Linked DNA regions of Homo sapiens: region 1 is linked to region 2. The links come from fine-mapping of genetic effects on gene expression. A gene starts in region 2. The other region holds a variant in brackets. All regions are shown on one strand. Distances are between the middles of the regions. Region 1 overlaps TRPM6 (transient receptor potential cation channel subfamily M member 6). Region 2 holds the start of TRPM6 (transient receptor potential cation channel subfamily M member 6).

The links.
Region 1: its variant is fine-mapped to the expression of TRPM6 in whole blood (INTERVAL, PIP above 0.99).

Annotation. Positions count from the first base shown.
Region 1 is chr9:74,859,876-74,865,257 of GRCh38, forward strand. All of the region lies in intron 1 of TRPM6 (transient receptor potential cation channel subfamily M member 6), which reads right to left. Among named protein-coding and RNA genes, the nearest start is that of TRPM6, 25 kb to the right of the region's middle. The variant G/GAAA (reference allele first, on the strand shown) is at 2,221.
Region 2 is chr9:74,884,899-74,890,280 of GRCh38, forward strand. It overlaps TRPM6 (transient receptor potential cation channel subfamily M member 6), which reads right to left and starts at 3,023. Exons shown (of 39, transcript NM_017662.5): 1 at 2,926-3,023. The coding sequence starts at 2,958. RefSeq lists an enhancer at 2,115-2,409.

The DNA.
Region 1 (5,382 bases), 25 kb before region 2:
TCCACGTCAGTGCAGTCCCCACCTCACTCATATCTACTCCCATTCTACTGTGGAAGGAAATGCACTGGGCCAGAAAATATGCTACAAATCCAGCTGTGGTACCTCATTATCACACTATCCTCAAAAAAAGCTCAGTGGATCTTGTCCAACATGCACCAATCCTAAACGTAAGTGTTCATCACTGAACAGAACTGTAGATAATGGAAGTCCAGACTTTTTTAAGTAAAATAGAAAGGAGAAAAACAGAGATTAGTTGATGGGTTCCTGTGTATTTAAATCTTACCTATAAACAAGGAAAACTTCCCAGATCAAGGCCAGAGTCATCTTAAATCATTTTACTCTCTTATTCTTTTTGCATGCTCAGCAGCATTTTCTATGTATTAAAAGACATTCACTAAATTGGCAAAACACTAAAAAACTTGGGAAAACCCAGTCATACAATGTAATTATTTATTTATTTATTTATTTTTATTTTTTTATTTTTTTTGAGACGGAGTCTTGCTCTGTTGCCCAGGCATTCCAGCCTGGCTCACTGCAATCTGGCGCAATCTCGGCTCACTGAAACCACTGCCTCTAGGTTTCAAGCGATTCTCCTGCCTCAGCCTCCTGAGTAGGTGGGATGATAGGCATGCACCAGCATGCCTGGCTAATTTTTGTATTTTTAGTAGCAACAGGGTTTCACCACGTTGGTCAGACTGGTCTCAAACTCCTGAACTCAAGTTGTCTGCTTGCCTTGGCCTCCCAAAGTGCTGGGATAACAGGCATGAGCCACCACACCCAACCCAGAATCACAGAACTTAAAAGGAACTAAATGAACAGGGAATTCAAAATCTATATTTCAATAAGAAATGACACAATCCGGCTGAGCGCAGTGGCCAACACCTGTAATCCCAGCACTTTGTGAGGCCGAGGCAGGTGGATCACTTGAGCCCAGGACTTCCAGACCAGCCTGGGCAACATGGTGAAACCCTGTCTCTACAAAATACAGGAATAAAAACAGCCGTGCATGGTGGCATGTGCCTATAATTCCCAGCAACCCAGAAGGCTGAGGTGGGAGGATTGCTTAAGCCCAAGGAAGTCGAGGCTGCAGTGAGCCATGATTGTGCCACTGCACTCTAGCCTGGGCGACAGAGTGAGACCTTGTCACAAAAAAAAGAAAGAAAGAAAGAAAGAAATGACACTATCTTTTTGAATCAGTCAGCCCTGTCCCCTATTCAAAAACGTTAACAATTTCATTTATTCATTCTCCAAACATTTATTAAATACCTAATTTTTGCAAAGCACTGACAAACATGTTACAAAAAGTCAGTATGTCCTCAAAGAATTCTTCATTCTGAATTTCAAAATACCTGAATCTATGAATTCATTCAACAAATATTTTGAATAGGCCCCCACGCTGCATGCTGGGACTTCTATTGCAAACGAGACAAAGTTCCTGCTCTCAAGGAAGTTAGAATAAAAAGGAGGAAACAGATAAGAAACTGATATCATTAAACTTTATGTGCACCAATTAACTATTTTTTTAATTTTTTGTATTTTTCATGCCTCTGGGACAAGTTCAAGGCCAATTAACTATTAAAAACAGATGCTAAAAGGGTATCTAATGTAGAAGCCTGTATAGACAAAATAGGCAAGCTGTGCTCAACCATTCACTTCTTTCAAAATGCTGAATGGCAGCTTTGTAGTAGGACTACCTGAACAAATTATTCGATTTCTTCATGCCTGTTTGTCTATCAAAATGGGGATAATAATAGTACCTCATAGAACTATTGAAAGGATTAGATAAAGGTTTAGAATTCTTCCTGGGACTTATTAAGTCTGAATAAAGCTCAGGTATTATTACTAGCAATATTAAAAGTAAAAACTGGCTTTGGGTTAATGGTCTGGGAACTTAACTTTGATGTATTTTTTTTTTCATAGAATAATGCCTCCTGACCTCCAAATTTCCCTCACAGTTCCTCTCATACTATGATTTAATGACCTTTACAGGCTCACATCTTCCCTGGACTCCAACTCCTATAGGCCCCATGCCAGTCATTTCTATTGCCCCAGGGCCTAACCCAATGATTGTTGAATGAGCAACAAACATGCTGAAAATAGAACTTCAGGAACCCATGTATACTATTTTCCCTCCAAAGGTGTAAACAGGAAGCCCGTGTCATAACAAGAATGTGGAAACTTTCCTCCTTCAACTCCGGTTATCTTATCTCAAAACTACCA[G/GAAA]AAAAAAAAAAAAAAAAAAAAAGCAGCCTTTAGCTTGAAAATGTTTCAAATAATTCTCAATTTAGAACTTTACTTCCCACCCTGCCAACCTCGTAATAGTTCCTTTGCAATATACTCTCCAGCACACTTCCGAGAGGCCTCCATGTTCAGTTCAACAGAGAACCAAATGTTTGTTGGTTCTGATAGGACAAACACCAAGTGTGCTAGCTTCTGCCACTAGAGCAGCAAATTTGTTGTGGTCGTGGTAGTTGAGAGTAAGGATTTTGACATTTCTGCAGCTATCATGGCAGTCTTCATCGACTGGATGTTTTTTGCTTTTTAATTGTTGTAATTTAGGGGAGGGAAAGGCAAAGGAGAAAGAAGGGAAATGGTGTGTTGGTCTCAATTTGTGTCATCCTAAAACATAATCAGATTTTATATCTAATCTTTGGCCTGAGGTCAGGCTGGGGAATTGCAAAGAAATGTTCACAGACTAACATAGTGAGATACCTTGGGGAGGGATCCAAGTCTGAATGTGAAATTCATTTATGTTTCATATACATCTTATATGCACAGACAAAAGGTAATTTTACACAATATTTTTTAAAAATTTATACATAAAATTGTCCGGGTGTGGTGGCTCACGCCTGTAATCCCGGCACTTTGGGAGGCCAAGGCGAGCAAGTCACTTGAGGTCAGGAGTTCGAGACCAGCCTGGACAACATGGCAAAACCCCATCTCTACTAAAGATACAAAAATTAGCTGACGTGGTGTCGGGCGCCTATAGTCCCAGTTACTCAGGAGGCTGAGGCATGAGAATCACTTGAACCCAGGAGGCAGAGGTTGCAGTGAGCCGAGATCATGCCACTGCACTCCAGCCTGGGTGACAGAACAGGACTCTGTCTCTAAATAAATAAATAAATAGTTTTATGCATGAAACAAAGTTTTTTTGTTTTGTTTTGTTTTTTGTTTGGTTTTGTTTTGTTTTTTTGAGACGGAGTTTCTCTCGTTGCCCAGACTGGAGTGCAATGGCACGATCTCGGCTCACTGCAACCTCTGCCTCCCAGGTTCAAGTGATTCTCCTGCCTCAGTCTCCCAAGTAGCTGGGATTACAGGTTCCTGCCACCACATCGAGCTAATTTTTGTATTTTTAGTAGAGATGGGGTTTCACCATGTTGGCCAGGCTGGTCTCAAACTCCTGACCTCAAGTGATCCACCCGCCTCGGCCTCCCAAAGTGCTAGGATTACAGGCGTGAGCCACTGTGCATGACTGAAACAAAGTTTTAACTGCATTTCAACTGCCACCTGCCACATGAAGTCAGATGTGAAATTTCCCGCTTATGGCACTCAAAAAGTTTCAGATTTTAGAGCATTTCACATTTCAGATTTTCAGAGTAGGGATGTTCAAACTGTATTTCCACTTTATGGCTTTTTAGGGTTCCCAGATAAATTATCTTGGGGTACTCTCTGAGAAGGCATAATTTCACAGATGTTCCTTAATCTTCAAAAAAGTGACTTTTTTTTTGAGACGGAGTCTCGCTCTGTCTCCCAGGCTGGAGTGCAATGGCGCGATCTCGGCTCACTGCGAGCTCCGCCTCCCGGGTTTTACGCCATTCTCCTGCCTCAGCCTCCTGAGTAGCTGGGACTACAGGCATGCACCACCTACGCCCGGCTAATTTTTTTTTGTATTTTTGGTAGAGATGGGGTTTCACCGTGTTAGCCAGGGTGGTCTCGAACTCCTGACCTTGTTATCCGCCCAACTCGGCCTCCCAAAGTGCTGGGATTACAGGCATGAGCCACCGCGCCCGGCAACCTTTTTTTTTTTAAAAAAACATCCACAAGTTTGCATGATTGGAGGTAAAGGGAGACAAAGATAACAGGTCATTTGTTTTCTTTCTACAACTTTTTTGCACCTTAAAAAAAATCTATCATCTAACAACTACTTCTTCAGTGGAACTGATAACTGACTCCGATTTTGATTTCCTGCATTCTCTCTTACACACATCACAGCACTAACAATGTTTACTTGCATTCACTGGACCATCTCTCTCTCTCTCTTAACCTTATTGTAATCCACTTCAAAAGAGAGCATTATTTTATTTATCTTGGAATTCACAACACTAGAATGGGTCAAATAGACAATATTTTCAGACTCCAGATCAACATTTGTTATTTTTTCTTCAGAGTGCCTCCCTTGAAGCAAGAATCCCTTCAAAGTGCCAGGTAGATGGACATCAGGATGTACCATCAATCAATCTGTTGGCTCAGGGAATCCATCAGTGCAAAGCCAGCCCATCCACTTTCAAGTGTCAGCTCAGGGCCTTCTATCTGTCCAAATTCTGCAAGGATACCTACCTGACACTTGATCCGAGAGGGGCAGTCTCAGAAAAACAGCATCCAGGCTAAAAATATCTAAAAACCAAGTTCCTGTTCCACCAACACTACCAGAAAGTGTGTTGACTGATTTTCCACTAAATAGTCTGTCCAGGAGGCAGAGAACACAAAGTAACCTTACACCTTCATCTCACTTTGGTGGTAAAAGGTGAGCACTATTTAGCTGGTAGTAATTTATTTTTGGTAACATCTCTAAAAATTGAATGTCAACTAAATAATTCACAATTCCCTAAAACGCCATTTCTCCTGAGTAGTTGAGAAATTTTACTAACATTTTCACATAGTGCTTTGCTAAGCAAAGGCATTTAGAACCTTGGAATGAGGCCTGGTGCAGTGGCTCATGCCTGAATCCCTGTACTTTGGGAGGCTGAGGTGGGTGGATCACCTGAGGTCAGGAGTTCGAGACCAGCCTGGCCAACATGATGAAACCCTGTCTCTACTAAAAATACAAAAAATTAGCCACGCGCAGTCGTGGGCGCCTGTAATCCCAGCTACTCAGGAGGCTGAGGCAAGAGAATCGCTTGAACCCAGGAGGTGGAAGTTGCAGTGGGCTGAGATCGTGCCACTGCACTCCAGCCTGGGCAATGAGAGAGAAATTCCCTCTCAAAAAAAAAAAAAAAATGGAACGTCAGAATGAATTTCTAGATTATATAAACTCAAGAGTTAAGGAGTAAAACATTTATAAATCTTCCTGGAGCCAAATAGGGGATTAGAGGAACTCAACAGTAACCTTCCAAGTAAAGTGCATCAGAAAGGTGAAAAGTGAAGTGATATCATACCCCTTCCTTC
Region 2 (5,382 bases):
TAACAGAGATGCAAAGTGAATCAGTCCCCAAATGATGGTGAAGAGAGAGCCCAAGGTAATAGCTGTGCATCAAACATCAAGAGCAACCAGTCTGGACTGGCAAAGCAGGTAAGAAAGCTGTGATAGAAATAAAATTGATTCAAATAGCTGTTGCATTGGACATCTTGAGGGAAGATTTAGACAACTAACAAAGAACTTGTGGTTAAATTGGTGAAAACTTTGCAAACACAGAGAGACAACTCTGGAAAAAAACAAGGAAGAAAGCTTTTAATAGCATGTAGGGAGGCATAATAATGTTGACCTAACTAAATATTGACCTAACCAAAAATTATGAGATAACTATATTCAGAGGATCTATGGAAGGAATAGGTAGGATGCATGTAAGTGGTAGTGGCAGGAAAACAGAAAAGAGTTAAATCCACACATTTCTTGCAGGAAAGTCAATGCATGATGACTAAACCTCAAAAACCAAGAAGGAGCAATTATAAGGAATATCTAGAGATACAGACAAATAGTAACTAGTTAAAAGAGATGAACATGATTACTTCTCTTAAAAAGCAGGAAGTGATGGAGGGTTCTACTGTTTTTAGATATTAACCCTATGGAATTAATTGATTCTGAACAATGAGAACGTAAAACTTCAATAAAACTAAGAAGTAAAGAAAAAAGGCACTAGTGAGACTCACATCATAATATCTTACCTAACAGTGATGGATTTTACAGAAAATAGTTGCCATGTAGACTTCTGATGTGTCACAAAGGAATAACTGAGTTATAGGTAGGATGGTCACTTTCAGTTCCAGCATGGTATTGATTCTACCAGAAGTATAATGAAAATCACTCAGATTATTTGGGCTGTTTATACTGAAAACTCATGATTTAAAACACAGTGAGGCCAGGCACAGTGGCTCAGGCCTGTAATCTTGGCACTTTGGGAGGCCAAAGAGGATTGCTTGAGCCCAGGAGTTCAAGACCAGTCTGGGCAACACAGCGAGACTCTGTCTCAAAAAAATAAAATAAAATAAAAAGTGAGAAATTTGAAAAAGAAGGAAAAAGAGAGAAGCCATATTTCAGGCACAGTATTTACCAAATGCTTGATAGTTTTGGCATAGATGTCCTATCCAAAAAATTAACTATGATAGATAATTGTAAATAGGCAAGATAAGACCAAAATTTGTGACAAATTGCAACATATTGCACGATTCTTTCCCTTCACCTCTGGTATAATGATCTCAAATGCTATTCATGCCCTTGTCTATCAAGACAAGTTTAACACTACCAAAGGGTACTAGTCTCCAGTTTTGGCCCAAAAAACAAAACTCATGCTAACTCCTACCCTAGATGGTTACCACTCCTGGTGGGAAACATAAGAAACAACCAGATTCTTAAAGTCAAGCCCAGATTCCAGTCTGGCCAAAATAGCTAACGCTTTATCAGTCCTGTAAGAACCCAAAGCAGATGACAGTGAAACATCAAAATCTGTATACAGGGGGAAAGAAATTGAATAACTCGTTTCCCACTTTAACAATTAAAGGTGATCATTTCTCCCTAGAACAAATAATCACAAATGATGTGTATGACTAGAACATCTATGTTCTCAGTGTCTTTTTTTCTCTTTTTTTTTTTTCTTTTTTATGTTCTCCGTGTCTTAAAGCACTGACCTGAGTTCAAATCTCAAATCTGCTTTTCTCCTTTGGTTTCATTTTCCTCACCTGTAAACCGGTGGAGATGGGAGAGACAGGATACTTGGACTTTATAGGATTACTGCCAGGATGAAATAGTTAAGAATCCCAAACTCTTACAACCTGCTAAATACGTCAGGCATTATTCTAAGTGCAAATGGCATGTAGCATTTCAATTCATCTTGAAACTACAAATCGTATTATCCCATTTTCCAGATGAGAAAGCCGAAGAACAGATGTTAACTCGCCCAAAATCACAGGTAGTGATGCAGCTGGGATGCTAATTCAGGCTACCTGGCTCCAGAGCATATGTTCTTATCAGAGCAGGCTGAAATGAGCTAACGTTTGCTAAGCTGCCTGGACTATTCCTGAAATACAATGTGCTCAATTATACTTATTTTTCATACACAGTGTGAGAAAGTCCAGACAAAATAGGCGAGACCAAGAAATTACCAGGATCTCCACTACTCTCCCAAGCGTCTCCAGTGCTCTCCCAACAGCCAGGAGCACCCTCCCTCTCCAAGCCCCCAGAACTTCCTGTTGCGCCATATGCCAGCGGTGGAGAGGAGCCAGCGGGGACTCCTGAGGTTGCAAGTCCGGGCGGCGCCGCGTTGGGGAAGGAAGCGGACTGCGGCGGGGCGGGTGTTTACCGTAACCGGCGCTGTCATCGCTCCGGGACTCCTGCACGGGGAACACTGGGCGCACGGGGACGCGCAGGGGCGCGGAGGGACGGCCGTCTGGGCACTTCTCCAGCCGCCTCGGAAAGCCGCGACCCCCGGCTAGTCAGCGTCCGGGTCTGAGATCTGTGCCCGTGGCAGCTCAAAACGCGCCTTCTCTCCTCCGGATTCTCAGCTCAAGCCACCTCCGAACTCCTCTCCCTCCGGCCCGGAGCGGAATCAGAGCTGCCTCCTCTCCCGGGGTGTTTCCCACCGCCCCGAGCTGAACCCCCGACCCCCGCTAGGTTTCCGCTCTGACACCACCTCCGCTATGGCCGCATCCCAGCTCTTGAAACGGGGGCTGCGGGACCTGCCCTGTAGTAGCGTACACTACCTTAGATAGGATAATCATCTTTGGGTGGAGACCAGAGAACTTGAAAGCCGGTATTTCATAAATCCTAGCTATTCTAGATCCTCGTTAGATGTAGTGTCCCTGGCCCCACCCACTTCTATCTAAGGCCGGGGGCGCAGATCTAGCGAATCGCCTAAGGTCCTTGTTCCCCGCCAGTCGAGCAGCCTGAGCTTACCTGCAAGCGCTCCAAGACAGGTTGTTCTTTCATCTTTGATTTGCAGGCCCTGCTCCCAAAGCCCTGTCTGAGCTTTTAACTGTGGAGGCAGAAACTCTGGGCTCCACCTCCACACGCTGCCTTTTACAGCCCAGTGGATCTGTCACAATACCTTTCGGCTTCAGTTACCTAACTGCCTAGAAAAGAAGGTGACTCTCAGTTTCCTTCGATAAAAGAAGAATAACGAGGATCAAATGGGATGGCCACTGTCATCACAGACATCCTTTGTAGTAATGTATTGTTACTGTTGAGTCAGTGTGGGGCGTGAGGAGATCAGAGATTTAAGCTAACGCACTGCTTTTACTACCTGTGACTTATTGGGCATGTCAAGCCTCAGTTTATTTATCTATGCAATGGGAATAATAGGGACAAAAATCCAGTTCCCTCACAAGGTTACAATGAACAAAGGAAATCACTTAATGTGCTTCATGTGTAACATACAATACAAATGTTTTGTTATTTCTGGTTTTTTTTTCATTTTTTTTGTTTGTTTTGTTTTGTTTTGGTGGATTCCTCTGGATAGGCATCTTCTCTTTCTTTCTTTCTTTCTTTCTTTCTTTCTTTCTTTCTTTCTTTCTTTCTTTCTCTCTTTCTTTCTTTCTTCTTTTTTTAGAGATGGAGTCTTGCTCTGTTGCCCAGGCTGGAGTGCAGTGGCAGGATCATGGCTCACTGCATCCTTGACCTCCCAGGCTCAAGTGATCCTTCCACTTCAGGCTCCAGAGAGTAGTTGGGACTACAGGCACACACCACAGTGCCTGGCTAATTTTATTTATTTATTTATTTATTTATTTATTTATTTATTTATTTATTTTAGAAATGGGGTCTCACTATGTTGCCCAGGCTGGTCTCAAACTCTGGACTCAAGCGATCTTCATGCCTCAGCCTTCCAGAGTGCTAGGATTACAGGCGTGAGCCACCATGCCCGGCCTAGGCAGTCTTGATTAAGGTTGTGGTCAGTGATTTGGGGTGGATCCCAGGGTGTTGGCAGAGGTGGCACAAAGCACACAGGCAAAATGATGCTCACATTATTACAAGTGTAATTAACAATGCTAGTCATTCATCCCTGACAACCGACTTAAAATTAGGGACACCTACTCATTTAGTTTATTATGAATTTTTGCCTGGTGAATTCACATTTGCAGACAGTTTACAGGTTTTTTCCCCTCATTTCTCAATGTGGTTTTAATAAGCATTTCTTTGTTTATTGGAAAATTGTAATCTCTCATATGTGTATTGGCATTTTGTTGTTTTTCTTTTTGTTGTTGTTGCTGTTGTTGTTGAGCCAGGGTCTCGCTCTGTCACCGGGCTGGAGTGCAGTGGCACTATGTCGGCTCACTGCAACCTCCACCTCCTGGGCTCAAGCAATCCTCCAGCCTCAGCCCCCGCAAGTAGCTAGGACTACATGTGCAAGCCACTACACCTGGCTAATTTTTGTAATTTTTGTAGATACGGAGTTTCACCATGTTGCCCAGGCTGGTCTCGAACTTCTGAACTCAAGCAATCCACCCACTTCAGCCTCCCTAAGTGCTAGGCATTTGTTGTTCTTCTATAAACACATTTAATCTCCTTTCCTCTCCTTAACCCATCTTCTTTAAAGCGTTAATCTGTAAACAGTTAACAGGTTCTGAAAGCTCTTCTAAGGCAAGTAAATCCTTCTCGATCTCTGTCTTCCATACAATTTCTTTGTTAGGTCTCTTACAGTGACTGGGTCAGAGAGTTCTCAGAAATCTTCAGACCCACCAAGAAGAGTAGCCATTTGGAACTCAAGATTTGTAAGAAGTCTACCATCTTCTAGTTTACCATCTTTGGTAAACCTACATGTTAGGATGATCATATATTCTTTTCAGATCAAGCTTCAAGGCATTTAGAGCCTGAAATACAAGGGCAATGTGAAGTGCTTAAAGCATTGAATGTACTAGTTTACAAGCTGCCTTTGGTTCCCAAGCTGTATCAGAAACATCTGAGGCATTTGTCAAAAGTGCAGATTCCCAGGCTCCAACCACCCTACCCAGATCTCTTGTATCAGGATTTATAGGGTGGGGCCCAGGAATCTGTATCTTTCACAAGCACTTTAATCAGTTGTCAAACTTGTATATAAAACTTCTTGTCCAGGCATGGTGGCTCATGCCTGTAATCCCAGCATTTAGGGAGGCCGAGGCAGGAGAATCACTTGAACTCATGATTTCGAGACCAGCCTGGTCAACATGGCAAAACCCCATCTGTACAAAAAAAAAAAACAAAAATTAGCCACGCGTGGTGGCTTACACTTGTGGTGCCAGCTACTTGGATGGCTGAGGTGAGAGGATTGCTTGAGCCCAGGAGGTCGGGGCTGCAGTGAGCTATGATGGCACCACTGCACTCCAGACTGGGCAACAGAGTAAGACCATATCTCAAAAAATAAATAAATAAAAAGAAAAC